Linked DNA regions of Homo sapiens. The protein of the gene in region 7 purifies or fractionates together with the protein of the main gene of each other region. This does not show direct contact. Each region holds a gene or a part of one and is shown on either strand. Other genes may lie near its edges.

Evidence for each region.
Region 1: the proteins of TCERG1 (region 7) and CHAF1A purify together in Homo sapiens (affinity purification with mass spectrometry, with the first as the bait; one study listed by BioGRID). This does not show direct contact.
Region 2: the proteins of TCERG1 (region 7) and POLD3 purify together in Homo sapiens (tandem affinity purification; one large-scale study listed by IntAct). This does not show direct contact.
Region 3: the proteins of TCERG1 (region 7) and HNRNPM purify together in Homo sapiens (affinity purification with mass spectrometry; 2 studies listed by BioGRID, with this or other methods). This does not show direct contact.
Region 4: the proteins of TCERG1 (region 7) and CHD8 purify together in Homo sapiens (affinity purification with mass spectrometry, with the first as the bait; one study listed by BioGRID). This does not show direct contact.
Region 5: the proteins of TCERG1 (region 7) and TCERG1L fractionate together in Homo sapiens (co-fractionation; one large-scale study listed by BioGRID). This does not show direct contact.
Region 6: the proteins of TCERG1 (region 7) and TPM4 purify together in Homo sapiens (affinity purification with mass spectrometry, with the first as the bait; one study listed by BioGRID). This does not show direct contact.

What each region holds. Positions count from the first base shown.
Region 1 is NC_000019.10:4,422,673-4,426,917, forward strand, and holds part of CHAF1A (chromatin assembly factor 1 subunit A), read left to right. Parts: coding exon 1-123; intron 124-662; coding exon 663-723; intron 724-1,133; coding exon 1,134-1,202; intron 1,203-4,245. UniProt on the Homo sapiens protein: Acts as a component of the histone chaperone complex chromatin assembly factor 1 (CAF-1), which assembles histone octamers onto DNA during replication and repair.
Region 2 is NC_000011.10:74,598,811-74,603,055, reverse strand, and holds part of POLD3 (DNA polymerase delta subunit 3), read right to left. Parts: intron 1-4,245. UniProt on the Homo sapiens protein: Accessory component of both the DNA polymerase delta complex and the DNA polymerase zeta complex.
Region 3 is NC_000019.10:8,451,330-8,455,574, forward strand, and holds part of HNRNPM (heterogeneous nuclear ribonucleoprotein M), read left to right. Parts: intron 1-4,075; coding exon 4,076-4,245. UniProt on the Homo sapiens protein: Pre-mRNA binding protein in vivo, binds avidly to poly(G) and poly(U) RNA homopolymers in vitro. Involved in splicing.
Region 4 is NC_000014.9:21,396,379-21,400,623, forward strand, and holds part of CHD8 (chromodomain-helicase-DNA-binding protein 8), read right to left. Parts: intron 4,235-4,245; coding exon 4,035-4,234; intron 3,930-4,034; coding exon 3,773-3,929; intron 3,693-3,772; coding exon 3,603-3,692; intron 3,328-3,602; coding exon 3,224-3,327; intron 1,575-3,223; coding exon 1,445-1,574; intron 1,024-1,444; exon of another isoform or gene 915-1,023; intron 1-914. UniProt on the Homo sapiens protein: ATP-dependent chromatin-remodeling factor, it slides nucleosomes along DNA; nucleosome sliding requires ATP. Acts as a transcription repressor by remodeling chromatin structure and recruiting histone H1 to target genes.
Region 5 is NC_000010.11:131,095,002-131,099,161, reverse strand, and holds part of TCERG1L (transcription elongation regulator 1-like protein), read left to right. Parts: intron 1-737; coding exon 738-856; intron 857-3,384; exon of another isoform or gene 3,385-3,774; intron 3,775-3,862; exon of another isoform or gene 3,863-3,944; intron 3,945-4,160.
Region 6 is NC_000019.10:16,075,035-16,079,749, forward strand, and holds the start of TPM4 (tropomyosin alpha-4 chain), read left to right. Parts: upstream 1-1,460; 5' UTR 1,461-1,531; coding exon 1,532-1,663; intron 1,664-1,981; exon of another isoform or gene 1,982-2,096; intron 2,097-4,715. UniProt on the Homo sapiens protein: Binds to actin filaments in muscle and non-muscle cells. Plays a central role, in association with the troponin complex, in the calcium dependent regulation of vertebrate striated muscle contraction.
Region 7 is NC_000005.10:146,477,919-146,482,163, forward strand, and holds part of TCERG1 (transcription elongation regulator 1), read left to right. Parts: intron 1-574; coding exon 575-735; intron 736-1,936; coding exon 1,937-1,993; intron 1,994-2,109; coding exon 2,110-2,176; exon of another isoform or gene 2,177-3,231; coding exon 3,232-3,282; exon of another isoform or gene 3,283-3,528; coding exon of another isoform or gene 3,529-3,652; exon of another isoform or gene 3,653-4,245. UniProt on the Homo sapiens protein: Transcription factor that binds RNA polymerase II and inhibits the elongation of transcripts from target promoters. Regulates transcription elongation in a TATA box-dependent manner.

The DNA.
Region 1 (4,245 bases), on a different chromosome or scaffold from region 7:
GGAGGAAGAGAAGGAGCTTAAGGAAAAGGAGAGGCGGGAGAAGCGGGAGAAGGATGAGAAGGAGAAGGCGGAGAAGCAGCGGCTCAAGGAGGAGCGGCGCAAGGAGAGACAGGAAGCCCTGGAGTGAGTGTCCTTGGAGGCCATGCTGGGCCCGCCACCCTGCTGCTGGATTCCGCTCCTGGCCACTCTGATGGGGCCTTTCCACTTCACAGGCAGATGGCGGCTCCCTTCAGTTCCTTCCCATTTCTCCTTCGTGAGGTGCCCGTGGGGCCCTGACGTGGGAGCGGTGGAAAGCAGCTCCCTGCTCTTTAGTGCTCCCCCACGTCCAACTCACCCTGGACCCCTTGTCTCTGCTGTGACCATCCTTCCAGTTCCCAACCAACTTAGGCATTTGCATTGCAGGATTGTGGGTTTTGTCTGTGCTAATTGTGCTCTGACTGGCTAAAGTTTTTTATATATATTCTAGTCACAGGAAGAATTTTATTGACTGTTTTCCATTTTTATTGTGAAGACCTATGTAAAAGCCTTATACTAGACATGAAAATAACTTATATTCATTTAATGTAAAATGAAATACTTGCCATATACTAACAGTTGAGTGCTGCGGTCCCTTCCAGAGCCAAAGCAAAGAGTCGGCTGAAATGTCATTTGCTGTCTCACAGGGCTAAACTTGAGGAAAAAAGGAAAAAGGAAGAAGAGAAACGGTTAAGAGAAGAAGAGAAGGTAGAGTGTTTCCCACAGAGCTTCCCCGTCCCAGCCCGTTGGAGAAGCAGATGCCCAAAGTGGAATTCTTGCCACAGCCGTCACCTAATATTCTCTTGGTTTGGGGAAACCAAATGGCGCCCGCAGGGAGGGCGAGTCTGTCTAGATGCGTTCTTGTTGCTTCTTCCCAGTGCTGGCTGTCACATGCCTACTGGCCCTGCAATCCTGGCACTTCTACCCACAAGGGCAACTTGGACATTTTGAGATTGGCTGGCTCAGTTGCGGGTCCGTGGGTTTTGAGAGCTGAAAATCACAGTAGTGCCTTCAAGCTAAAATGCTTGACGTTCGGTTCTGGGGGCCTTTGCATGTTTTGCAACACATACTGTTCCTCTTCCTCTCCTCTTTCTCATCACCATCTCTTAACATCACAGCGCATTAAAGCAGAGAAGGCCGAAATCACGAGGTTCTTCCAGAAACCAAAGACTCCACAGGCCCCCAAGGTGAGCAGCCGGCTGCCTTTGCTTTTGGGTTTCAGCTCTGCTAGACTTTTCCTTTCTGAAAGTGAAAGGGTCTCTCCCCAGCCAGCTTCTCTCATTAGGAGGGAGGGAGCCTCCAGTGACCTAGGGCACTTCCATTTCTGGTTAAGTCTTGAGGCTCAATATTTTGTCCTTCGCTTTGTCCCAAAGAGGTAAAAAGTGGCATGTCTGATTAAACAGTGCTGTTTTCAGAGGTTACTTCATGAATAATTTTGTGTTAGGCGTAAGAGAAATTCACCATGTTTTTACCCTTGGGAAACTTAGGCTTAAGGAGGGAGCACGTTTAGCTGTAAAACAACAGTACAATTCACAAAGGTTTACTTTCCCTGCCTGGCGTCGGTCACCTGGCATCTCAGACCTTCTGAGCCACCATCTGTGCATGGAAACCACAGCCCTCCTTCCCCTTTACCCAGAGGGAGCCCATCTCCAATGTTAGGGGTCCTTCAGTGCCTTTCCCTGCTCCACTCACTGTATTTATACACATGTGTACTTAGCTATCTCAGATTTGTGCCATGTTGCCACATTTAGATGTATTTCATTCTTTTTAATGTATCTGGCCTTTATTTATTTTTTGAGGCAGGGTCTCACTGTCACCCAGGCTGTAGTGCAGTTGCACAATCAAAGCTCACCACAGCCTTGACCTCTCAGGGTCTGGTGATCCTGTCACCTCAGCCTTCCCGAGTAGCTGGGACTACAGGCATGTGCCACCATGCCTGGCTAATTTTTTATTTTTATTTTTTTTGAGATGGAGTCTCACTCTGTCACCCAGGCTGCAGTACAGTGGTGCGATCTCAGCTCACTGCAACGTCCACCTCCCGGGTTCCAGTGATTCTTCTGTGTCAGCCTCCCAGGTAGCTGGGATTACAGGCACATGCTACCACACCTGGCTAATTTTTGTATTTTTAGTATAGACGGGGTTTTACCATGTTGGCTAGGCTGGTCTTGAACTCCTGACCTCAGGTGATCCGCCCGCCTCAGCCTCCCGAAGTGCCGGGATTATAGGCGTGAGCCACCGTGCCCGGCCTAATTTTTTAATTTTTTTTTGTAGAGACTGGGTTTTGCTATGTTGCCCAGGCTGGTCTCGACGACCTGGCTTCAAATGATCCTCCAAACCTCGGCCTCTCAAAGCACTTGGATTACAGGTGTGAGTCCCTGCACCTGGCCTGTCCTTTTATTTGTATGTTGAGACATTTGATGGCAATTGTGTATCCTGAAGGTGCACAATGTGACATTGTTGTACCTACACATCATATTGTGACAGCCAGAGATCCACATCATGTATTTTCACTGCCGCATAATACTTCATAATGCAATGATATGGTTTCTCTCTTTTTTTACAAAAATTATTTATTTATTTAGAGACGGAGTATTGCTCTGTCACCCATGCTGGAGAGCAGTGGCGCTATCTCTCGGCTCACTCTAACCTTTGTCTCCCGGGTTCAAGCAATTCTTCTACCTCAGCCTCCCGAGTAGCTGGGATTACAGGTGCCTGCCACCACTCCCAGCTAATTTTTTGTGTTTTTAGTAGAGACGGGGTTTCACCATATTGGCCAGGCTGGTCTTGAACTCCTGACCTCAGATGATCTGCCCATCTCAGCCTCCCTAATTTTATTTTTAGTAGAGACTGGGTCTCACTGTGTTGCCAGGGCTGGTCTCGACCTCCTGGTCTCAAGCATTTCTCTCGCTTTGGCCACCCACCGTGCTAGGATCACAGGCATGAGCCACAGAGCCTGCCACTATCTCAACCTCTTTGCCCCTCAGTGGTGTAGGGGGGGTCCCTGCACATGCTTCTCTGCACACATGCATTCCTCTGGGACAGCCAAGTAAGCATGAGTTCACCTCTAGGACAAAATAGCATATTGCTGAAGCATCATGAGCCATGGCCAGAGTGCGTGCCAGATGGGAAACTCAGATGTACATTCCCGGCGATGTGTGGAAATTTCCTCCCCATTCTCTGCTATCACTGCAATTTTTATGGGATTAATTTTCTTTTAACTTTGCCAGTCTGATGGATTTTTAAAAATTGACATTGTTTTACTTTCCATTTTTACTTGACTCTTGGTGCAGTTGAGCATCTTTTTCTGTTCGTTTGCCATTTTAGTTCTTCTATGACTTGCCAATTCCTATTTTTTTACCTATTTTTCTACAGGATTTTCTTTTTTTTTCTTTGCCTGATCTGTAAGTTTTTTTTAACATAGTCTAGTATTTCATTCTCCGTGATATTTCGTCTCAGCCTGTTACCTCTTTGTTTACAGTCTTTTTTTTTTTTTTTTTTGAGACACAGTTTCACTCTGTTGCTGAGGCTGGAGTGCAGTGGTGCCATCTCGGCTCACTGCAAGCTCCACCTCCTGGGTTCACACCATTCTCCTGCCTCAGCCTCCCGAGTAGCTGGGACTACAAGCGCCCGCCACCATGCCCCGCTAATTTTTTGTATTTTTAGTAGAGACGGGGTTTGCACCGTGTTGGCCAGGATGGTCTCGATCTCCTGACCTTGTGATCCGCCCGCCTCGGCCTCCCAAAGGGCTGGGATTACAGGTGTGAGCCACCGTGCCCGGCCTTTGTTGTTTTTTGTTTGTTTGTTTTGAGACAAAGTTTCGCTCATTGCCCAGGCTGGAGTGCAGTGGCATGATCTCAGCTCACCACAACCTCTGCCTCCTGCGTTCAAATGATTCTCTTGCCTCAGCCTCCCGAGTAGCTGAGATTACAGGCATGTGCTGCCACGCCCAGCTAATTTTGTATTTTTAGTAGAGACGGGGTTTTTCCATGTTGGTCAGGCTTGTCTTGAACTACTGACCTCAGGTGATCCGCCTACCTCGGCCTCCCAAAGTGCTGGGATTACAGGTGTGAGCCACCACGCCCAGCTACAGTGTCTTTCATTATACTGAAATTTCTCCTTTTGGCCAGGTGCGGTGGCTTATGCCTGTAATCTCAGCATTTGGGGAGGCCAAGGCGGGTGAATCATCTGAGGTCAGGAGCTTGAGACCAGCCTGGCCAACAAGGTGTCTCT
Region 2 (4,245 bases), on a different chromosome or scaffold from region 7:
CTCAGATGACAGTAAGTCTATGGAAACAAAGTTAAGTAAGTTAAGGAGGACAGAGGGTGCCTGAGAAGTTTTGCTATTTTATATAAGGTGATTAGGGAAGGCCTCATTAGCAGAGCCCTGCAGGGAGGGAGGGAGCCAGCAAGGTGGATATCTTGGGAAACAATGTTCTAGGCAGAGAGTCCAGCAAATACCAAGGTTCTGAGGCAGGAAGGTCAGCAAGATCCAAGGAACAGAAAGGCCAGTGTGCTGTAGTGGAATAAGGACGGTAGTAGGGGAGAGAGGGCAGAGTGCCAGGCACATAGGGCTTTGTGGCTACCACAGGACTTTAAGAAGCCATTAGAAAGTTGAGAGCAGAGGTAATGTGATCTCACCTTTCAGAAGGATCTGAGAAGGTTATGTGGATGATATACTGTAGAGGGGCAAGGGAGGAAGCAAGACCAGTTAGGCTATTGCAATAACCCAGCCTAGAGATGACTGGTAGCTCAGTTTGGGGCAGTAGCAGTGCAGGTAGTAATTAGTGGATGAATTCTGGGTATATTTTAAAGTGAGAAACAACAGGATTTGCTGATATACTGTGTTGAAGTGTAAGAGAAAGAAGAGTCAAAAATGACTGGACTAGGCAACCCAAAGAAGGAAGCTGTAATTCACTGAGATGGGGGAAAAGCAGGAAAAGCAGGTGTTGAGGGGAGAAGTCAGGAGTTAGGTTTGGGGGCATATTAAATTTGCAATGCCTATTAGTCACTGTTGATGTTGAAAAGGTTGCTAGAGAGTCTTGTCTGAAACATAATTCCTTGTTATAAAGCTTTCAGTAGCGCCAGGTGTGGTGGCTCACGCCTGTAATCCCAGCTCTCAGGGAGGCAGAAGCAGGAGGATAGCTTGAGCACAGGAGTTCAAGACCTGACTGGGCAATATAGCGAGACCCCATGTTCCACAAAAAGGGAGGAGAAAAAAAAAAGTGTAACAAAGCTTTCAGTAGCTTCTCATCCCCTAAGGATCAACTTCAAATCTCTAGCAATGACAGGTAAGACCCTTCTTGTTCTGGGCTCTGTATCTCTGACCATTCCCCATCATACCTACACTATCTTCATCCTTAATGAAACATTCTACAATTCTCTTTATTCCTTTGTATATGCCCTTCCTTCTGCCTAGAAGGCTCTTCTCAGGCCTCAACTACCTAATTTCTCATCAAGACAGCAGCTCAGTTGTCACCTCCTCTATGAAGTATGAACCCTTCCCCAACACCATCAGGTCACCAGGGCACATCTTTTTTTTAAGAGATAGAGTCTCACTCTGTCGCCCAGGCTGAAGTGCAGTGGCGCAGCTCTCTATAACCTTGAATTCCTGGGCTCAAGCCATCCTCCTTCCTCAGCCTCCTAAGTAAACAGGACCACAGGTGCATGCTACCATGCCTGGTTATTATTTTTTCTTCCTGGTAGAAACAGGCTTTTGTTATATCTCCCAGCCTGACCTCGAACCCCTGCGCTCAAGTGATCCTCCTGCCTTGGCCTCTCAAAATGCTAGGATTACAGGAGTGAGCCATCATGCCTAGACAATGAGCTTCTGCCATCCAAGCTCTAACAAATTTTATCCCATATCTATTATTACAGCACATATCACCCTGCCTTCTAACTATTTATTTTACATATGACGCATCCCCTCTAGACTGTTAACACCTTGAGTACAAAAAGGTGCCCTAGTCAGGATTTTTGCTGATTCCTCCTCTTTGCCCTCTAATGTTTCTTTCCATTACAACAATTGTGTTAGAAGGATAAATGAGCTAACAGATCCACAAACATTTTGGTTTATTGATGCTAGTTTGGACCATGCTAAAGGAAGACATGATAGGCAGGTACCATGCCCAAAATGCTTGCAAGCTTGCTGGCCAAATGCACTATCTTTTATCCACAACTAATAGTCCTGCCCATATCATCAGTCATTGTCCTCTATGCACTTGTCTCCCCAAATTGACCCCAGTTCTTCTCTCTTATATTAACAGAAAATGCAAAGCAAACTCTTATTTTAAAAAACAATTCTTGTGGCTGGGTGCGGTGGCTCACACCTGTAATCCCAGCACTTTGGGAGGCCAAGGCAGGCAGATCACCTGAGGTTGAGAGTTTGAGACCAGCCTAACCAACATAGAGAAACCTCGTCTCTATTAAAAATACAAAATTAGCCGGGCACATGGTGGCGCATGCCCGTAATCCCAGTTACTCGGGAGGCTGAAGCAGGAGAATCGCTTGAACCTGGGAGACAGAGGTTGCAGTGAGCTGGGATCGTGCCATCACACTCCAGCCTGGACAACAAGAGCAAAATCCTATCTCAAAAAAAAAAAAAAAAAAAAAAAAGGAAAGAATTCCTGCCTACTTTTTGAGTCTTTAAAACATGTTTTATCTAATTTAAGCCAAACTTTTCTGTTTTTTTGGAGATAGAGTATCGCTCTGTCGCCAGGCTGGAGTGCAGTGGCGCGATCTCAGCTCACTGCCATGTCTGCCTCCTAGGTTCAAGTGATTTTCCTGCCTCAGCCTCCCAAGTAGCTGGGACTACAGGCACACGCTGGCTAATTTTTTGTATTTTAGTATTTTTGTATTTCAGTAGCGCCAGGTGTGGTGGCTCACGCCTGTAATCCCAGCTCTCAGGGAGGCAGAAGCAGGAGGATAGCTTGAGCCTGGTCTCAAACTCCTGAGCTCAGGCAATCTGCCCTCCTCGGCCTCCCAAAGTGCTAGGATTACAGGCATTAGTCACCGCGCCCAGCCTAAGCCAAATATTTTTTAATAAACAAAATATAAAATATTCTTAAATAAGAATGACAACAGGCTGGGCACAGTGGCTCATGCCTGTAATCCCAGCATGTTAGGAGGCCGAGGCAGGCGGATCACGAGGTCAGGAGTTCAAGACCAGCTGGCCAGCATGGTGAAACCCCATCTCTACTAAACATACAAGAAGTTAGCCAGGCGTGGTGGCATGTGCCTGTAGTCCCAGCTACTCGGGAGGCTGAGGCAGGAGAATTGCTTGAATTCTAAAGGCGGAGGTTGCAGTGAGCCGAGATTGCACCATTGTACTCCAGCCTGGGCAACAGAGCTGTCTCAAAAAAAAAAAAAATAATAATAATAACAACATATATGACTTCTTACAAGATACACTTCCTACACATGATTAATTATAGCTTCCCATTTTAATTCATTAATCTTCCCTCCTGATCAGTTCCACCCATAATGTTCCCCAGGATGAGTACAGTGTATTGCCCATACCGCTTTCTCTAACCCAACTTAATTATTTCACAGCATTTTCACAGTCTGAAATTATCTTGTTTAAATCAACCAGGGGAGGGACCCTGTCTGTCAGGTTTACTGTTGTATGACATAGCCTGAAATAATGCTAAAAAAAAACAGTATGAGGCCAGGCACGGTGGCTCAAGCCTGTACTCCCAGCACTTTGGGAGGCCGAGGTGGGCAGATTGCGAGGTCAGGGGTTCAAGACCAGCCTGGCCAAGATCGTGAAACCCTGTCTCTACTAAAAATACAAAAATTAGCCAGGCGTGGTGGCAGGTGCTGTAATCCCCACTATTCAGGAGGCTGAAGCAGGAGAATCGTTTGAACCTGGAAGGTGGAGGTTGCAGTGAGCTGAGTTCCGCCACTGCACTCCGGCCTAGGCAACAGAGCGAGACTCCGTCAAAAAAAAAAAAAAAAATTACTTGAGAGAAATGTTTGTGAAAATACTATAGTGAGGCCGAGCATGGTGGCTCATGCCTATAATCTCAGCACTTTGGGAGGCTGAGGCAGGAGGACTGCTTGAGTCCAGACGTTCAAGACCAGCCTGGTCAACACAGCAAGATCCCAACTCTACGAAATAAAAAAATCAGCTAGCATGGTGGCATGTACCTGTGGTCCCAGCTACTCTCAGGAGACTGAGGTGGGAGTATCCCTTAAGCCTAGGAGGTCATGGCTAAAGGAAGCCATGTTTGAACTACTGCACTCCAGCCTGGGTGATACAGTGAGACTCTATCTCAAAACAAACATAAACCATAGTGCTTGGTATTCATTCAGTATGTATTGGCATTCATTATGTGCCTGACACTGAAGACAGAATAATTGTGGCATGTTATATTTTCCAAAGATGGCTGAGACAGCATCTTCCATTCCATATGCTCTTCTACATTCTCTCATTGAGAAGTAGAGCCCACTTCTTGAATCTGGTATGACCAGTTATTCACTGCTTGACTTCTGAGGCTAGTCAGAAAAGGCAATT
Region 3 (4,245 bases), on a different chromosome or scaffold from region 7:
ACCGCGCCCAGCCAAAAGTTAAAAAGACTTGCAGAGTTAAGTTTTTATATGTACGTATACATATACATGGACTAGAGAAGAATCTTCCCCTAATTTTGTCCTGAAGATAGTGAGAAAATAGGATTGGACATGTTAAAAAAAGAGCTTTTCAGGACATCACTTTTATACTATCACATCATCTAAACTTGAATATGTCCCTCCCCTTCCCCTTCCCCTTCCCTTGCCGAGACAGGGTCTCCCGCTGTTACCCCCGGCTGGAGTGTAGTGGTGCAATCATGGCTTACTGTACCCTTGACCTCCTGGAGCCAGACTGTCTTCTTTCTGCATAGCTGGGACCGCAGTTGTGCACCAACATACCTGGCTAATTTTTTGTATTTTTTTTGTAGGGACACGGTTTTGCCATGTTACCCAGGCTGGTCTCAAGACTCCTGGATTCAAGCACTCAGCTCACCTCAGCCTCCCAAACTGCTGGGACTGCAGGCATGAGCCACCATGGCCAGTCTGCTTGAATATGTGTCTCGAATGATATTTCTTTGAGGGTCATTCTCTACAAGTCTGTCAAGAATTAGTTGGTGGTGGTAGATTTCCAAAAAGGTCAATTTTTTAAAAGTTGGAAATGACAAGAGATAGTTCTAATCTCTTTACTGAGGAAACCTCTCAGAGGGAATGATTAGCCAGGGAAGGATTTGTTTGCAGAGGTGCTGTGCCCATTAAGCATGGTGAGAGCCGCTTTCTCAATGGTGAGTCATGTGATGTGGATTAACCCCAAACCAAATGCTCAGCTTCTGTGGTTAGATTGGATAGTTTATTCGTAGCCATGGTATGCACCTGTGGAATATAGGTTAGACACTTTGTTACCTGCTTTGGCTGTAATTATTTATTTATACATTTCGTAGTTTATAGGTGAGCTTAAGCAGTCTGGTGAAAGACTGGAAATAATTCATCATGGACTCTGTCAGAATGTTTTTTATTGTAAATCTTAAAGTATTTGGGACTTCAAAAGTAACAATATTAAAATTCATTTCCATCTGTGAATCCTCTGGTGGACCATGATGTGTAGATTCTGTTATGTTTTATGATTTTTTCTAACACAGTCGTCGTCATTTTCCAGGAAAGAGTAGGAGATGATTTGGCAGATAGATTTTGTTTGGCAGACTTTGGTGAAGGACTTTCTTTTGGAGTAGACAAGTGGCCTGGGTAACAGTTGTAGGTCTCCTGTGGGACCTGCTTTGTGGTGTGAAGCCAGTCTTGTGGACTCAGGTAGATTGCGTTCTAGGCATCTAGGGATTGGAGCTGCCATAACATCACCTTATCTGCCAGCCCGTGGGAAGGGAAGCCTGTTGATTGTGTATTGGTATAGTTGAGAGATCACAGAGGAAGCTGCTTTCCTTGGTTTTACCTTGTGTTGATTTGGGTGTGGCTCACACCAGTGATACCTCTGCTGGGATACCACTTGGCACTCTTGTGTTTGGGGACTACACAAAGTTGCTGACTTTAAAATTTTTCCAAGTAAATACGTTACTATTTTTGAGACAGGGTCTTGCTTTGTCAACCAGGCTGGAGTGCAGTGGTGCAATCATAGTTCACTGCAATCTTGACCTCCTGGACTGGAGCCATCCTCTCAGCTCAGCCTCCTGAGTAGCTGGGACTACAGGTGCACAACACCACACTCAGATAATTATTATTATTTTTAAAAATAAAGACAGGGTCTTATTTGTCGAACTCTTGGGTTTAAGTAAGATTCTCCTGCCTTGACCTCCCAAAGTGCTGGGATTATAGGTGTGAGCCACCATACCTGGTCTCAAGTGAATACTTTTGTTTGTTTGTTTGGAGACAGAGTCTCATTATGTCACTCAGGCTGGAGTGCAGTGGTGCGGTCTCAGCTCACTGCAACCTCCGCCCCCCGGGTTCAAGCGATTCTCCTGCCTCAGCCTCCTGAGAGGTGGGATTGCAGGCATGTGCCACCACGCCCAGCTAATTTTTGTATTTTTAGTAGAGATGGAGTTTCAGCATGTTGGCCAGGCTGGTCTTGAACTCCTGACCTCAAGTGATACACCTGCCTGAGCCTCCCAAAGTGCTGGGATTACAGATGGGAGTTACCACACCTGGCCTCAACTAAATAACATTTTAAAATAGTAGCTTCTCCAGCTACTATCTGGTGTTTCTTCCACGGAAGAAAGTTACATCCCAGAATAAAGATCGGCTCTTCAGTTAAAGATACTTTTATAAATCATTAATACTGTAGTCTTGGCTTTTTGGTTTTTTTTCCGGTTTTGTCATGGATTACAAATTCTGTAGTAGAGCCCGTGGTCTGGGAGTCACTGGATTCTCACTGGCGGGACACACAGGGCTGGGGAAGCAGAAGGTGCAAGGCTCAGTTGCTTAAGAAACTTGAGGTGGCTTCTGGCTCCTCACTTGTTCCTGATCAGCTCTAATCTGTGCCTCCCTGTAGTCAGAGGGGTTGCGCTTGAGCTGGCAGCTGAGGAAAGCGCCCTGTCAGCCAGTGCCCGGGCTTCCAAGCCTGATGGCTGCTACCTAGAGATGGTTAGTGTTAACAGTGTGGTGGCACCTAGCACACAAAGGTAAAGAGTGCAATGGGAAGGCCGTGCCAGAAAAGCAGCCACCCTTCTTTGCCAAAGGTGGGATTGTCTGCATGCTGTCTTCCACCTCCCAGGGTTGCTCAGACCCAAGTTTCCCAGCTTCAAAGTAGTAGGATTGTGTAGGGAGTGGTTTCTTTTCCACCTTTCTGGATTTTTAAAAAGTGGTTAAAATATACATAAAATAGACCATTTTAACCATCTTAAGTGTGCAGTGAAGTATGATGTTTTGCAGCAATCTGCACATTCCTGGAACTTTTATTCTCATCCCACATGAAATTCTATGCTCAGTATTTAATAACTTCCCATTTCTACCTCCCCCTAGGCCCAGGTAACCTCTGTTCTACTTTCTGTGTATGGATTTGCTTATTATAGGTATTTAATAAGTGGAATCATACAATATTTGGCCTTCAGTGACTGGCTTATTTCACTGAGCATAATGCCCTCAAGGTTCATGCATGTTGTAGCCTTTGTCAGGATTTCCTTCCTTTTTGTGGCTGAATAATATCCCATTGCATGGATAGTCCGTGTTTTGTTTATTCCATTCATCTATTGGTAGACACTTGGTTGTTTCTACCTTTTGGCTTGTGTGAGTAGTGCTGCTATGAACATTGGCATATGTGTATGAGTCCCTGCTTTTAATTCTTTTGGGTGTATACCTAGCAGTGGAATTGCTGGGTCATAGTAATTCTGTGTTTAATTTTGAGTGACTACCTAACTTTTCCATGGCGGCTGCATCATTTTATGCCCCCCCCCCCTTTTTTTTTTTAACACTATGAAAGACACTTATTTGTGAAGCTAAAATTGGATGGGCCTATGTGTACTACCTCATATTTCCATTCTATGAAGTCTTAGAAATCATCCCTCTCTTCTCCTGTTTCTGTCTTGGAATTAACACACCTTGGTCAGGGAGTTGGCCTCACCATTGTCTCTGTTACTGTCCGTAGGAGTATTTTGTGAGCCCAGGAAGGTGTACCTTTCCTTGGGAATGCTTTCTGCCCTGTGGAGCCTTGAGTTTGAATGTCTTAATTCAAAACCAACATTAGTCTTGTCTTTGCTTTTTTTGAGACAGGGTCTCGCTCTGTCACCCTAGGCTGGAGTGCAGTAGGGTGATCATAGTTTGCTGGAGCCTCGAACTCCCGAGTTTAAGTGATCCTCCCATCTCACCCTCCCTACTAGCTAGTACTGCAAGTGCACCACCACACCTGGCTAAGTTTTATATATATTTTTTTGTTGTTTTGACAGGGTCTTGCTATGTTGCCCAGGCTAGTCTTGAACTCCTGGCCTCAAATGATCCCCCCTTCTTGGCTTCCCAAAGTGCTAGGATTACAGGTGTGAGCCACCGCATCTGACCAATACTAGTCTTGTGTCATATGTAACTTTGTGTGGAATTGTAAACCTGGCAAATCAAATAATTATCTTTCACATTGTGCTGACATATAAACCCTTTACCTTTTTTTCCTCTCTCTCGAATTCAGTGAAGGAGAACGACCTGCTCAGAATGAGAAGAGGAAGGAGAAAAACATAAAAAGAGGAGGCAATCGCTTTGAGCCATATGCCAATCCAACTAAAAGATACAGAGCCTTCATTACAAACATACCTTTTGATGTGAAATGGCAGTCACTTAAAGACCTGGTTAAAGAAAAAG
Region 4 (4,245 bases), on a different chromosome or scaffold from region 7:
TCACTGCAACCTGTGCCTCCCGGGTTCAAGCGATTCTCCTGCCTCAGCCTCCTGAGTAGCTGGGATCTACACATACCCACCACCATGCCAGGCTAATTTTTGTATTGTTAGTAGAGATGGGGTTTCACCATGTTGCTCAGGTTGGTCTCAAACTCTTGGGCTCAAGTGATCCCATCCTGGCCTAGTCTTTTATTTATTTATTTATTTATTTATTTTTTGAGATGGAGTCTTGTTCCATCACCTGGAGTGCAGCAGTGCCATCTCGGCTCACTGCAACCTCCGCCTCCTGGGTTCAAGTGTTTCTCCTGCCTCAGCCTCCCAAGTAGCTGGGATTACAGGCATGCGCCACCACTCCTGGCTAATTTTTTTTGTATTTTTAGTACAGACGGGGTTTCACCTTATTTGCCATGCTGGTCTCGAACTGATGACCTTGTGATCCACCCACTGTGGCCTCCCAAAGGGCTGGGATTACAGGCATGAGCCACAGTGCCTGGCCTAGTATTTAATTTCGTGTTTACAGGAATGGCAGGCCAGGTGCAAAACTTTGGGTCAGTCTGGTATAGCATCCAATGGAATACAAATAATTATAAGAAATTGACAATGTACCATTCGTAATTGCTTGAATTTGAAACACTTTGATCAACACAGTTCCTTTTTCTTGACTTTTATTATGTAATTCTTCCTCCTACCCAACTATTTACTTTTTATTATTTCATTTGTATGGTTCACGCTTTTTTGTTTTTATTACTGTGTTCTTCTGAGCAGACAGGTGGCATAAACGATTTGCAATGAATAAATAACCCAATTTCCTTTGAGGGTCCTACACTAGGCAAACTGAGGGTGTGATCGTCAAAGAGAAATTTCTCAGTCATGATGGAATGGGGAGGTATTCATTAAGCCAACTGTTTCACATGCCCCTCAGATCTTCATGTGAGAAGTTTTGTTAAACTCACTGGCACCCAAACCAGGGCAACACTGCCCTACCTGGTGGCTCAGTATTAGCATGGCAACTCATCATTGGGACATGTTTTCAGGCAAAATAAGTACCTTTATGTGTCAGGTACCATTGGGAGATGATAAACCAGGGCTGAAAGCGCCTAAGGCTCTTCCACAGAAGCAACGTATGAGAGCTGCTGGCTGTTATCTTTCAAGAGACCAGTTATCCTCTCAGCTACTGTAGCTGTACAGAAGAGTGTTGTAAACCAAACCAAATAGAACATCAAATAAGCCATTTACAAGTGACATTCATTTTCACCCTCAGATGTATCTTATGGCAACATGTGGTTTATGCAGTTTATGGAGTCCTTTCTGCTGGTCCTATTTTTGCTAAGGATCTATCACTTTTGAGTATAATTACAATTAAGAATCCCATTGGGTTCAGTCAAGGCTAGAGTTATTTCACGGCACAAGTTAGAGTTTTAAAAGAACAAATACTAATGCTTACCCTTCTACTATGTCAGAGAAGTTATCCAACACTCGATGTTCTGCTGCAATTGCTTTGTCATCTGGTCGGCCAGCCTTTTCTAGGAAACATAAGGCTGGGTCTGCCCTCATGGTATTATATTTCTCATAGCCTAGAAGAAAAAGGGTCATAGTTGAAGAAAATGAGATTTGTTTTGCCTTTATGCTTACTTTATATGCTGCTGGAATAATTAGAATATGTTCTATATTGCTCATAATGGAAAACAAAGTTAGAATGTTATCTTGGACAACTACTGGGTTTATTACTATATTTAACATTTTTATAGCAATTTAGAATCATGAAGAGTTTTTAACTAGTGACTGATAGCCTTAGGCTCCCAAAGTGTTGGGATTCCAGGTGTAAGCCACCATGCCTTGCCTGCAGTTTTATTTATTTTTATTTATTTATTTATTTTTTGAGATGGAGTCTCACTCTGTCGCCCAGGCTGGAGTGCAGTGGTGCGATCTTGGCTCACTGCAAGCTCTGCCTTCCAGGTTCACGCCATTCTCCTGCCTCAGCCTCCTGAGTAGCTGGGACTACAGGTGCCCACCACCACGCCCAGCTAATTTTTTATATTTTTTAGTAGAGCCGGCGTTTCACCGTGTTAGCCAGGATAGTCTCAATCTCCTGATCTGCACACCTTGGCCACCCAAAGTGCTGGGATTACAGGCATAAGCCACCATGCCCAGCACCTGCAATTTTATTTATCCCATTAAACGTCTCAAAAAAGATGTAGATTAAGTGCCATTACTTTTATTTTATAGAAAAAAAAGTATTCTTTTAAAAAAAAGACATTCTAATTCACAAAGTCACTTGGCTGAAAGTTAACGCTTACTGTTTTTAGTGCCTGGGATTTGGCATTAGGCAAAACTGCTATAAGAGTAAGGAAATATTCTTACCCCCACTGCATTTTTGTTTTGGCTAGTCAGTCTCCCTTCTTATACTCTACTTTTATTTCACTCAAAAACTGCTGCCTCATACCTATATCAGAGAGACTGCTGAACATTTAGACAAATGGGACATGTAGAAAAACAGAAGATTTTCAGCTCTTTCTCTTTAGTGAGGCAGCCAAGCTGACATAGAGATGCAGATCTCTGTAAAGACCCTCACAGGCAAAACCATCACCCTTGAGGTCCAGCCGAGTGACACCAGTGAAAATGTCAAAGCCAAGATCCACGACAAGGAGGGCATCCCACCTGACCAGCAGCATCTGATATTTGTGAACAAACAGTTGGAGGATGGCCGTACTCTTTCAGACTGTAACATCCAGAAAGAGTCCACCCTGCAGGTGGTGCTTTGCCTCTGAGGTGACATTATTGAGCCTTCCCTCTGCCTACTCACCCAGAAATACAACTGCGACAAGATGATCTGCTGCAATTGTTATGCTAGTGCACATCCAGAGGAAAGTCATATAAATTAAGTGTGATTATTATTAACAATAGTTGGGGTATATTACCTGCCCTGATTCATGGGACCCTAACTTACCATAGCATACAGTGCGGTAACACACTGCTAACAGTGATTAGAGAACAGATGGGAGGCTCCCTACCTTGAGATTTACCTATCCATCTGGCCCTTCTTGAACATCTATTTATAGGAACTAACTGCTCTGCTCTGGATATTTAAGAACTACTTTCCTACTCAAATTTATTGAAGATCAATCAGATAACTGAGTTATTTCTCAGGAGCATTTTGCTAAATGTTCCATCCGTGAACATAAATCTTCAGTCGGAAAGGAGTAGAATAGGAGAAGATACGTACCATGTTTAAAGACTCCAATGAGCAGCGACTTGTCAGCCTCACTGTCCCACCAAGTTGTTGGAACCTCCAGTTGATCCACTACTGGGAACCATATGTCAATCTCACTAAAGGTATAAGAGGGCAGAGTCAGCACAGAAATGCAGGAAATTAAAGTGAGAATCCTTGCAAAGGTTATTATAGGTATCTTCCTGTATCCATTAATTTAAATACTCATGCATCTACCCTATTTCCTCCCACTAGTGTCAAGTATAAGATTAAAGACCTGATATATAGATTTAAATTATCAGGTATCCCAAAGATAGCATAAAATGAAATAAGCAAACCAATCTTCCCTCAAATAAGGTAGGGCATAAATCAAAAAAATATAGCAGAATTTTACCTGGCAATCGCACCCCCTAACACCTTTTCTGCTTGGTCTCCAATAACCTCCTGCCTCAGGTAGTATAGCATTCGTACCCGCAACAGTACCCTAGAAAGGACAGAGGAAGAGCTGGCTCAGTAACACTGTAGAAGTTTGAGGTGGAAAATGTCTGCTAATTCTATGCTTACTTGTTACACTGATGTTTCAAGTGCTTCTTATAACTTTCATCTTGGAACAAAGTGTCAGGGTTATATTTCCGGATCCAATCTGCCTTATGGATATCAAAAGTGCTTTGTGACTTTACTTTTTTTCCTTTGCGTCCACGAGGCACAGGGATAGATAGACCTGGGAAAGGGGAGACATCAAAGACTTGGATTGAGAAAAACCCTTGGACCTGAAAAGGATTAGATTAACCTATAGAAAAACATAAAGTAAAGAGTTGATAATTACCTGAATGATTCTGCAATTCTTTTGTCTTGCCATTTTCAGCTGGGCTAATCAAGTCCCAGATGAAGCCTTTAATATTTTCATCCCCACGGTAGTGTAGAAGACAGTACACGAGAATGGCCCGACAAATGGTCTCCACATCTCGTTCAGTCATACGTCGCTTGAAGCGTCCATGAGATAAAATATCTCGCCATCGTCCCCAACTAAAAAACAG
Region 5 (4,160 bases), on a different chromosome or scaffold from region 7:
CCTGTTTGGGGCAGCATTTGAGATGCATTTCTGGTCAGATGGGAGTGCCCAGTGCCCGAGGGTCAGGCCTCCTGGCCAGTTGTTTCCACACTGATGACCCAGGCAGCCTGGCATCCTGTGACCCCCTCAGAAGAGACCACTTATGCACCCTGAGTCCTCCCCAAGGCACCAGACGCCCAGGTTCACAAGTGGGGATCAGAGATGCAGAATTTACTTTCTTTCCACAAGTTAAGGTCATTTTTGGGAGACTCGAATGTCAATTACGTCACCCTAGGAAGTGACTAGCACGAACTAAGTGCTCTGCTGTGTTCTGGTGCCACTGGCCGTGATGAGGCAGTGGGAGGCCGCGCGTTACAGATGCTGCTCAGAGGGCACAGTGAGGACCACTGCAGCCTACAGCACGGGTTCCAAACCGCCACTTGGTTCCAGACGCCTGCAGAGAGGGCAGCCAAGTCATTCTCCGGGTTTCTCCAGCAGGGCTGCTTCACGTTTGACCCAGAAATGGCGCCTGCATGTAGAGAAATGCCGGGCCGTGTGGGCACCCAGGTTTAATTATTCAGACTGCTTGGATCCTTGAGAGCTATGCTGAAAGGCTGTTGCTCATAACTCCAGCAGCTGTAAACAAGAACAGCTTTTGCCATAGATTCTTGCTGCTTTCTCATGTTGTGCTTGGAATACAAGATTTCATTTCTGATATGCAATTTCATGATGTTTTTCTTCTGTATCTGTGTTTTAAGATATTTGAACAGTTTGTCAAGACAAGAATAAAAGAAGAATACAAGGAAAAGAAAAGTAAATTGCTGCTAGCCAAAGAAGAATTCAAGAAACTTCTAGAGGAATCTAAAGTGTCTCCCAGGTATGGAGAGAGAAATATACCGGATGATTTCTGGGGCTGGGAACTTACCAATGACAAGAGGACTCTTCAGGTTTGTTTTTGTTAAATCGTGTAACCCAGCCTTCCACAGACACGAAAGTGTGAGCTTTGAAGACCTGCCAGTGAGACCAGCCTGGCTCCCCTCTATCATGCTGCCTGTCATGAGCCTCCAAATGTCCCTCTCATCAGTCCTGGGAAAGTGGGCTATTTGCTAACCAAATGCATCACAACCATTTTATTCCTACCCTGCATGCATTTCAAACGTCAGCAGCCCTGACTGACCCAAATAACCAATCAATACGTGAGCACTCATGAGATGAGGTCTAGTTTCTGATCTAATGATCAAGAAGCAAAAATGCAAAGCTGACTACAAACAACAGCACCATAACCCCTACCACACCCCTTGGTTCCAGATGTCTTAACAGTTGGTCCCAGAGTAAAATGAAGATTTGATACACCGGACAAGTGAACTGAGTTAACTAGGTTGCCAAAACTTACTAAAATAATAAATGAGGCATTATTTCCATGAAATAAGACACACTTACAAGAAAATAGATGTTAGAAATTGGAAGAATACATAAGCTTAACTCTTTCTTAAAAATTAGCTTTAATTGACTGATCTTTAAAAAGTAATGAACATGGGCCGGGCGCGGTGGCTCACGCCTATAATCCCAGCACTTTGGGAGACCAAGGCAGGTGGATCACGAGGTCAGGAGATCGAGACCATCCTGGCTAACACGGTGAAACCCTGTCTCTACTAAAAATACAAAAAATTAGCCGGGCGTGGTGGTGGGTGCCTGTAGTCCCAGCTGCTTGGGAGACTGAGGCAGGAGAATGGCGTAAACCTGGGAGGCGGAGCTTGCAGTGAGCCTTGATTGCACCACTGCACTCCAACCTGGGCGACAGAGTGAGTCTCCGTCTCAAAGAATAAAGAAATAAATAAAAAGTAATGAACATGTACTACTTTTAGAACTATAAAACTGTAAGTTTCGTAAGCATAAAAATGGTTAACAATGTATTTTTATTTTAGACTGGAAGATGCAGCATCAGTTTTTTGTTTGTTTCTTTTTTTTTTTTTTTTTTTTTTGAGACAGACCCTCGCTGTGTCACCCAGGCTGTGGTGCAATGGCACGATCTTGGTTCACTGTAACCTTTGCCTCCGGGGTTCAAGCAATTCTCCCTGCTTCAACCTCTCAAGTAGCTGGGATAACAGGCACCCACTACCATGCACAGCTAATTTTTGTATTTTTAGTAGAGATGGGGTTTCACCATGTTGACCGGGCTGGTCTTGAACTCCTGACCTCAGGTGATCCACCCACCTCGACCTCCCAAAGTACTTGGATTACAGGCGTGAGACACCATGCCCAGCCAGAATCAGTTTTTTCTTTCTTTTTTTTTTTTTTTGAGATGGAGTCGCTCTGTTGCCCAGGCTGGAGTGCAATGATGCAATCTCGGCTCACTGCAAGCTCCGCCTCCTGGGTACATGCCAAGTAGCTGGGACTACAGGTGCCCACCACCACACCCGGCTAATTTTTGTATTTTTAGTAGAGAAGTAGAGACGGGGTTTCACCATGTTAGCCAGGATGGTCTGGATCTCCTGATCTTGTGATCCACCCGCCTTGGCCTCCCAAAGTGCTGGGATTACAGGCATGAGCCACCGCGCCTGGCCTGCATCGGTTTTTAAATGGACATTAATTGATGCTTTCTATGAAGGCATAGGCCCCCTTTGTTTGACCTGTGATTTGGTTGATCAAGAATTAGGTGACCTAAGTTAGTGCTAGTTACACAATCCTCATAAAACTTCTCTAGCTATTCTAAGGACAGGTACTTTCTGAATAGGGAAAAAATAGCATGAATTATCTTCATCACAAGTGCTAATGTAGACAAGGAAATGTGTGTCCTGTTGCCTGCAACTTGTGATTTTCCATTGTTAAAGCAGTCATGAGAATGCTGGGTTCTAGCCATGGCTTAGCTGTGTCCACCCACCAGGTGGCCTTGGGACAGAGGCGGAGGAGGCAAGGGCTCTGGAAAGGTGCTGGAGCCCCTTCTCTGCCTTGGTTCACAGCCTGGCCCTGGCCCATCTTCTCCTGGCCATGGGGTAAGTATTGGACCTTCCTGTGCTCCCGAGCCCTCCTCCAAATGGGAGGATGACCACACACACCTCAGAAAGTGACGAGGAGGATGGCGTGAGGAGTTGCAGGGAGGGACCCCGACGGTGCCTGGCAGGCAGGAGGAGCTCCGAAAGTGGTAGCTGTCATTACTGCTATTGAGACCATCATTACTGTTAAAGACATCTGGCCAGCATTCTCTATTGATAAACTAGCAGCAATAAGCCACATACTCCCCTTCCCATGAATACATCATGAAGACAACGGAAAAAATATTCGGAATGCATTGAGCCATTTAAAAAAGATGACATACACACATACACGCACACAGAAGGAAAACGAGTGGTAGAAATTAGAAGGGAGTTAAACGGACTCTTTTTAAAATGAGAGTTAATTGCCTGCTATTTTTTAAAATAAATTTTATTGTATATATTTAAACTATACAACATAATGTTATAGGGCACATAGAGATAAGATGCTTACTATAATGTAGCAAATTATTTTAAAATTTACACTGGGATATATTGCTTTGATAATTATAAAGCTATTTTTTTCATTTTAAAAGTAGCTAAGTTTTCAACATTTCAAAAACTTTTTCCAGATCTTCTGTATACTTTTCTGTAGGCATCCTAGTGAAACATGTACAATTCAAATGACCACATGCTGGAGAGCCAGGCGCGTCCCCATGCAGGCGACGTGGGCCTCTTAGAAGCAGCCTCCTGAGGCTGTGTAGCCTCCTGCAGCCATACAGTCCCGTCCTGGTCGCCCGTCTCAGCCTCGGTCCTGAGCAGCCTGTGGGAATGGTGGCGACGGGACAGTCCAGAACACTCCTGGACAGCCCCTAGCCCCAGCCCTGCCCGCCTCTCGGGAGAGCAGCTACCGGGGACTGGGTCCTAGCCAGGTGGGGTTGGCCGCCCGGTGGGGTTGACGCCCGGTGGGGTTGGCCGTCCGGTGGGGTTGGCCGCCCGGTGGGGTTGACACCCGGTGGGGTTGGCCGCCCGGTGGGGTTAGCCGCCCAGTGTTCCTTCCTGAGAGCTGCAGCAGCCGCCTCCTTCATGGCAGGCTGGCCCGAGTCCCACTTAGCAGAGGGAGAGCAGAGATCCAGGGCCTGTGAATCAGCTGACCTTCGTGAGTTCACACCACAGCTCATCAGCATCAGCAGAAAGCCGGTTGCTGCC
Region 6 (4,715 bases), on a different chromosome or scaffold from region 7:
TGAGCTGAGATCGTGCCACTGCACTCCAGCCTTGGTGACAGAGCGAGACTCTCAAAAAAAAAAGTCAGATCCAGGCATGAGCTGGATATGATCACCCTAATCCAGAGTTGGGGGCCCAGGGAGGGAGTTTCAGCCTGGAGGTGACAGAAAAGTCTTCTTGAGCCAACTCTAGACCGGTGTGGTGGGGGGTGACAAAGAGAGGTGATGGGGTCTGTGGTTTGTAATCCATAGGCCTGAGCTTCTCAAACTAGGAGTGATGGGAGGATAGGACTCTTGGGATAAACAGAGGACTGAAAATTTAGGGAAAGTAGGGGACATTTTTATTAAAATGAACATGGCCTATATGCAAAAATTTTAAAGATTTAACCCGAGCCTTCAAAGAAAGTGATCCTGTAGGGGCGAGTCTCTTCTAGCCAAGCTCCCCAAAGCCCAGAAATGAGGGACTAGGTCTGAGCCCTTCAGCCCTTCAGAGTATTTTGGTAAGACAGTCTAAGAACCACTGCCTTGGGCCATAGGGAGCCATAGCAGGTTCTAGGCAGAAAGAGGGCAGGCGTATTTGTTAGAAAGTTTCTCTGACCCCGTGTTGGGGTCAGAACCAGAGGGAGAAAGGCTGGGGACAGGGATGGGCGGAGGGATCCACGCGCAGAGAATGAGATTGCTTAACTCCAGATCATGGTGAGGCTGCACCTCTGAAACTGGAATGTGTGTATTTCTGGAAAACATTTGGAGTCTTCAGTTTCCCAAAAGCTGCCATTGATCTCCCTAGAGTACTGGGGACCCCAATAAGCCCAAAACAGCTGGTCCTCAGGACGAGGGAAAGATGTGAAAATCCCACTATCAGGTAGCATGGATGGCGTGGTGCATGCTATCGCAACCCCTGTTCTACAGATAAGGAAACTGATGCCCAGAGAGAGACGGAGGACTCTTGTGAATATTGGGGGGGACCGCCCCTGCACCTCGGGGACGTGACCCCCCCCCCAGGCTGACCCGTTCCTCGCTCTGTCGTCCCCAGGTGGAGGAGGAGCTGACGCACCTCCAGAAGAAACTAAAAGGGACAGAGGACGAGCTGGATAAATATTCCGAGGACCTGAAGGACGCGCAGGAGAAGCTGGAGCTCACGGAGAAGAAGGCCTCCGACGTACGTGTGCAGGGATGCGGGAGCCCGCGGCGGGGCCAGGCCGGAGCCCCGGGGCCGGGAAGGCGGGGAGAGCCGCAGGGGGAGGAGGAAGAGGAGGAGGAGAAGGCGGCGCCTCCCAGCGCTTTCTCCAAATAAGTCCCGAAAAGGGGCACTTTCCAGCAGCTGTGGCCAGCGGTGCCGACGTCAGGCCCTCCCCCAGCGGTGCTGACGTCGGCGGTCCGGCCGGGTGACCTCATCGCCCCGACGGCAGCCGGCCCGGGGGGCGGGGAGAGGCGGGGGCGGCCCCCGCGCAGGCAAAGGCTTGGGGGGCCGGGGCGCGGCTGTGCAGCTCTCGCCGGAGCCGAGCCCAGCCGAGCGTCCGCCGCTGCCCGTGCGCCTCTGCGCCTCCGCGCCATGGCCGGCCTCAACTCCCTGGAGGCGGTGAAACGCAAGATCCAGGCCCTGCAGCAGCAGGCGGACGAGGCGGAAGACCGCGCGCAGGGCCTGCAGCGGGAGCTGGACGGCGAGCGCGAGCGGCGCGAGAAAGTGAGCGCCCCGGCCTCGGGCCCCGCACCCGCAGCCTCCTCCCCCGCGCGCCCTCCTTTCTTCCCGGCTTCCCGCGCTGCCCGCCCGCGCGCAGTCCTCGGGCCGCCTTTTTACGCCCTCGGACGCCGATCGCCGACCCACATCCCTGCGCCCGCAGCCAGGACCCCCTACTTCCTCCGCCGTCCTCCTTCCTGGGCCTGGGACAGGGGAGGGGGCGCCGCCTCCGGGTCGGGCGGGGCCGGCCAAGCGGGAAATGGGGGGATGGGGCGGAGGGGGTGAGCGATCTCCGGGTGGAGAAGTGGAGCGGCGGGAGGGGGCGTATCGTGCAGGCTCCGACTCCGGGGCTGGCGCCGGGGTCCCGGGCCGAGGGGAACCCGCGACCGGACTTGTGGGGGAGAATGAGGATGAAAACGTGGAGCTTCCATTGTCTAGGGTTTGACCGGCCGACAGGGATTTCGACGGGGGACCGGGGATCTGGGGAGGGGGTCGCACTTTCTCGCCTCTTTCGCGGCTTCCCGGCTTCTGCTTGCTTCCCTGACCGTTCCCAGGGGCGCGGCGGCGACGTGTCTGCTCCAGGCGGCGGGGGGGATGGGGGGTGGAGGAAGTTCAGCCCCAAGCCGCCCGCCTTTCTCCAGCTGATTCCTGCGGGAACCGGGGCGGCGGGACCCTGCCTCTCTCCAGAAGGCCCCGGGAACGCTGGCGCGGGGCCCTGAACCCACGATCGTTTGAGCGCCTGCTGTGCGCCTCCGCCGCGAGTCGCAGGGCCCGAGATAAACAATGGGTCTGAAAAAGGAGGGAGTTTCACCATCCTCTCTGCATCATCCTCCTGGCTGTCCCTCGGGACAGATGGTGGCACCGCCAGGGTCTGGGGACAGATTTGGATTCTGGTCCCATATCATGCCACCCACAGGCTTCATGACTTGGTATTTGCTCTCTAGGAGCTTTTTTCCCATCTGCGAGTAGGACTGATAAGAATCCCGACCCCCCAGAGTAGCAGGGAGGGTCCCAGGAGTAAATCTCAGGCGTGGAGCCTGGCGCTTTGTAAATAATCAATTGTGTTGTTGTTTTTTGTTGTTTTGTTTTTGAGGCAGTCTCACTCTGTCGCCCAGGCTGGAGTGCAGTGGTGCGATCTCGGCTCGCTGCAACCTCCACCCCCCGAGTTCAAGAGATTCTCCTGCTTCAGCCTCCCGAGTAGCTGGGATTACAGGTGCCCGCCACCACGCCCAGCTAATTTTTTTTTTTTTATTTTGGATTTTTAGTAGAGACAGTGTCTCACCATGCTGGCCAGGCTGGTCTCGAACTCCTGACCTCGTGATCTGCCCACCTTGGCCTCCCAAAGTTCTGGGATTACAAGCGTGAGCCACGGCGCCCAGCCTCAATTGTGTTTTCTCTGCCCTGGGAAGAGCTCATAGACAAATGGAGGCAGGGGAGCTGACTCACTGATGGAGCGAGGTCTGCATTCCACGGGTTTTCTGTGCAGTTATGGGAGCATGACAGGGGAGGCTCCAAAATGGAGGTTGAGCTGGGTCTTATAGAATAAATAAGTTTGCTGGGACCAGAGACATGGGTGTGCACAGACTCAGAGGCAAGAAAGTTGTATGATGAGGGTGGGGGGGTGTGCGGATAGAGGTTGAAGCCCAAAAGCCCTGAAAGTTCAGTGTTGAGGCTCAGGGTGGGGACCCTAGAGAGGCAAAAGATGCCCAGCCAGATGGAATTGGTGGTGTGAATTGCCAGGACTGGAAAGAGCCCAGATGGGGGCTGCAGCATGGGCCTTGGTTGAAGCCTCTAATCCTGTAAGGGCTGCTTTGGCCCAAGAGGCCTTAGAAACCCGGTGTAAGCCTCAATCGGTAGCCGGTCTGGCCTCTTTCTCACACTTAACCGACACAGCTCTTGCTCTGATCTCATCCCAAGTCATCTCGCTGGAGGACAATTAACTCGGCTTCAAAATGGCCCTCAGCCTGGAGCCAAGATTTAGGAGCAAGACCGTCTAGTTGGGAGAGAAGATGTTTTTGGAGAGTTGAAGACTTCTTGAAAAAGTTCGAAAAGTTCTTGAAAAAGCAAAGGATGCTTCTTTCCGTCTGGGAGAGGGAAAACCTCTCCCAGGGCAAAAGGAACTAAGACCAGGGGTGGGTTAAAAAAAAAAAAAAAAAAACCTTTCACTCTTGTAGAATAAGCCAGGAGCCGGCGTGTGGTAGACTTCTGGGCCTGTTTCCCGACAGCTGGTTTCGTTTAGATTTTTGTGTGATTAACTGACATCTTCCTGTTCCTTTGCCACATGTATCTAGCAAGCCTCTTTTACCTTATAAGGGAAATCCTTTGTAGCGTGTGGAAGGCTTTGATTGCAGGAAGGGGTGGAACCCAAAATGACTCGGCCGTGACTAGCAGTTTTTCAAAAATACATATATATGTATGCATGTACAGATATGCGTGTATCTCCCAACTCCAGACAGCTGAAAATCTGCCAAAAGCGTTGTTTGCCAGGATTCAGAATTTCCCACATAAGGGCTACTCACTTCTTAAAAGACAACTCATGAATCAAGCACCTCTGTTTGATCTTTAAAATCAATTCCTCGACTGCTAATGGGTACACAGTTTTTTGTTTGTTTGTTTGTCTTTGGCGGGTTATGAAAATGTCCTGGAATTCGATAATGGTGTTGGTTGCAGAGTGTTTTTGCAACATCAGTTCCTGGCCCAGTTACTGAAGGTGGTAGGAGGAGTTAAGATCTAGGCAATTAAAAAGAATGAAAGGCACCCATTCATGGGAAGGCCTCAGTGACGTTTCTTAAGACAGTTTCATCAGTGGTTTTCACAATTCTCTGCATTTGGTGTTTCAGAGGACACTGCAATACGAAACACCTGTGGGAGTGCCCTCTTTCTGCTTCTAGGAATCTGAGGCTGAGAAACCTTCCTGACTCTATTTGTGTAGTTTTTCGGCCACGTTAGCCTCATTCTATTTTTTTTTCCCCCAGTATGAACTCAGGGCAGGAGAGGGAGTGGTTTCCTAATAATTTTTTTTTTTTGAGACGGAATCTTGCTCTGTTACCCAGGCTGG
Region 7 (4,245 bases):
TCTCAAACTCCTGAGCTCAAGTGATCCTCCTGCTTTGGCCTCCCAAAGTGTTAGAATTACAGGCCTGAGCCACCGTGCTGGGCCTTCCCTTTACTTTTTATTTTAGATATAATTAGATCTTAAAGTCTTCATAGAAGGTTGCATTTCAGTATGTAGTTTTGGTTTGTTAAGAAATATTAAGAACTATAGTAGCTAGGATGCTATGTCTGTTCTTTAGCTTTAGAACTGCTTAATAGCATTATTGTTGCCATTAAACTCATTCTTTCTGATAGTTTAAAATTTAGTACTCTCAAATTGAGTGTGCCAAACCAAATTCCTAAGCATTTTAATCTCTGATCACAAATTGCTTTGCATTTCTTGGTTTTCTCAGTTAATATGTTGATCTGTTATTTTTGCTTGAGTCATTCAGTTATCTTGTAAAAACCATGTTTGGTTCTCTGTAAATAACTATTGGTAATAAGAACATGTCGTTCTTCAGTACCCTCATCTCCCTACTTGTAACAGGCTGAAAGAAGTCCTAGCTGTAAAATATGTTCTGTAACATAAGAGAATGATATTTTGCATCAATTCTTAGGTGTGTCGTTTGGACTGGTGATGAGCGGGTCTTCTTTTATAATCCCACCACTCGTCTTTCTATGTGGGACCGACCTGATGATCTGATTGGCAGGGCAGATGTTGACAAAATTATTCAGGAGCCCCCTCATAAAAAAGGAATGGAGGAATTGAAGAAACTAAGTAAGTTTTAAATTAGGAATTTATCCACTGATTTTAACATTCTTTTCATATTTTGATAGAAAATGTGGAAGGCATTTAGAAACCCTTTATTTTTCAAAGAATATAAGAAGCATTCGAAAAAAATAGACTGCTATCCTAGTTTGAATGAAATAATAGAGATTAAAAATATGGAGAGAATTTGGATAAGATTGTGCTTTGTAAAATATGTGTGTCTTTAATTTATTGTCCTACTCAAGATTTTCAGTTAGTCCAAGATATGGTTGGTAGTGTTGCTGCTTGCTTAGTGCTTATCAATACTACTAAAATGCTCCTCGGTGGGCCTTTTAGCACCTTTTGTGACTAGTAATATATTTCTTGAAATAATACATTACAAATTTTTTAAAAATACAAAATCTCAATCTTTTGAATTAGATGGTAAGCTCCTTATATTCCTGAGACTAGACACCTAAACCTTACTAAGAGATTATCTTTTAATCTATCTCATATTCAGAGGGCATACTAATATATTGAGTACAGATATTTGTACGTAATTTTTGTTGTGTATTTCTTATTGGTAATTTGCCCTTGTGTTGATATGATTGTGTTTTTATAGAACTGTGGCCCGCAAGTGGTATAGAAGCAAGATAAATGAATTATTTAATGCTTCTAATGAAATAAATCCTAGTGTGTATCATTTATAGTCATTGAGACATTTTCATGCATTATATATATGCTGAATTATAAGTAATTTCTGAGTCAGTGCCGCTTTGCCTATCTAGTGCTGAAGGTACTAGGCTCACCTTCAGCAATACTTGTTTTATAGGTATGATAATAATACTTTATAACTATGGTATTGAATGATGTTGAAACAATATGTGATTTTCTTTTGTTTTTCGTGAATTTGTTTTTAAATATTTGATTCATTCATTTGATAAATACATTAACGTGCATTGTTAAAAGGTACTGTAAATCCTGAATCAAGAAAGCTTTATTTTATATATTTGTAAATTTAAGGTTTGGGCAAGAAACATTTCAAAATGAATTAAATTTAATGTAAAGGGAGGATAAATAGAGGAAGTGTAGAATTATGCTTTGTTTAATGTTTTATAAAGGGATGAATATTAAGAGGTGAATATATTATGTAAACAGTAATTTTTAAAAAGAAAAGTTTGTGAAATATATGCAAATGACTTTGTAACAATATTTGAAATGTTTTTGCCAGGGCACCCAACTCCGACAATGCTGTCGATCCAAAAGTGGCAATTCTCTATGAGTGCAAGTGAGTGAACTAACCATAAATTGCAGCTTCTTTTTAATACTATTAAAGCAAGTGTTCTGGTAGTGATTAGCAGAAGGATTCATTCCTAAATATTTTAATTAAATTTTGTCTTATAGTTAAAGAGGAACAAGAATTAATGGAAGAAATTAATGAAGATGAGCCTGTTAAAGCAAAAAAACGGAAGTAAGTAATACATACGATTTGATTGAGGTAGATTATATCTTTTAAAAGTCGATTTGGTAATAATTTGTGATTGGAAGGGACAGGTAATGTGAATGTTGTTAGGAGGCATGATTGCTCTCTTAGGCCTGATAATAAATAGCTTTGTTTTTCATTGTAGAAAATGTGTCCCTTCTTTTGCTAGATTTGTAGAAGATTTGGGTATTCATATATGTATTATGACTCCAAATGATAGTTTTGGAATTAATTCTTTTTGGAAATTTATTAGGTCTCAATTTTATGAAAAGTTAGTTTCCTCCCTCATTTAGACCCCAATGGATACCATTCCAGAGATCTCATAAAAACAGACACAGACTTCTCCCTCTTTATATGGTTATCTTACGACTTACCTAGTCCTTGAGTCTGGTCATTAACTCCTTGGTGAGGAGAGAACCCATAAGCTTAGGAAGTGCTCTGCGAGAAAGAGACTGCTAAGAAGTAGAGGCATTAGCTTGGCCAGTGCTCTAGAGTTGGGTAAAATGTAAATGTTATGGCGGGGGGAAGGATGGGGTAGAGGGTATGCATGTATGGGGAATGGGACCATTATTTAGCAGCAAAAAGGAAAGTTTGAAGACATTAACAGGAACTGGTTAATTGTAGTCCTTATCTGAAAAGGACAGATTGAATGCAGCCAAATTATGGCAAAGAAATCAGTAGGACAACCCCTATAAAGGGTAGTTCTTTTAAAAAAAATTTCTTTATTGGCAACAACATAAAAGATATGAAAGAATCACTCATAATTTATCAGCGTAACATAGCTATTCTCATTTTTGCAATTGACTTTTTAGTTCTTGACCAAATGTAATTTTTATTAGTTGTGATTAACTGATTTTGTGCTTTTTTTTTAAAAAAAAAAAACCTAGAATAAGACATTTGTTTTGTTAATTATTATAAATGACTGTATTCATTCTGTTTATGTACCATAATTTTGGATGTTCCTACGATGTTAAACTTTTAGGTTGTTTTTAATTGTTTGTTCTTATAGACAACTCTGTAAGGTTTTTAACTGCTTTTATCAGGAGAATGTCAAAGAAGTCCTTTATGTGGATTGCCCGAGCTTCTCTATTTAGGTACAAAGCTAAAAGCCTGTTTTTCCTGGCTTAGTTTTTCTTTTATTTCCTTTATTGAGATAGATAGTGATAGTTTGTATTGTGACATTTTCATTTAGTATAGTTCTATAAAGGTTATTTGTTTTTATTAGTTACTTCTTGGATGTCTTTTAACTCTAACTATTTAAATAGTTTTAAAATTATTATTATAAGAGGGTATATTGTTTGGCAAATTGCTTTTACCTGTTTGTTTTGTGCATATCTTAGGTCACAGACTATCTCGCTAAGTTCCTGCAGGTCACGGACTATGTCTTCTATTTCTTTTGATTCATTGCCTAAGTTGCTAAGTACCTCTCACTTGCATTTGTGGGTTAGCCTTAGTTCCATTTAAATCTCTGGGGCTACCTACAGTTTCCTGTATAGCATGCTTTTGAATTTCCACATGTTCTGTTTTCCTAATTCCCTTAAGTTTGTATAGGGAATAAGAGCCAATTTTTAAAATATACTTAGCAGATCATATTTAAGAAGGAAGATCTGCTAAAATACACCCAGATATTATTGAATTACATACTTTTTTGGATTATTTACGTGAATGGGCCTTTTTCATAGTGCATATATTTGAGAGGTGCCGTGATTCCATGTTTACAATTTCACTTGAGTACCACACAGAAACAGGGTTGCCCTTACACCTGAGGTGCATTTTTGGAGGAACAAGAAGTAGTTTAGTCATTGATGAACAGTTCTAATTCCACCTAACTACTCCTGGGCCCATGTTGCTCTCTGGGACCTGTCCTTCAACTTAAATCTCAACTTATCACCCAGAAAGTGAGTAATAAAAAGTCAGGTAGGTAAGGTATATATCTTACATATTCACTTGGCCAAGATTGCAGATATTTTAGTTTTATTTTTAAAATGAATGTTTGAGATTACTAAAACATTATACCACTTAATACCAATTTTTATTAGATTTTACAAAATATTTTA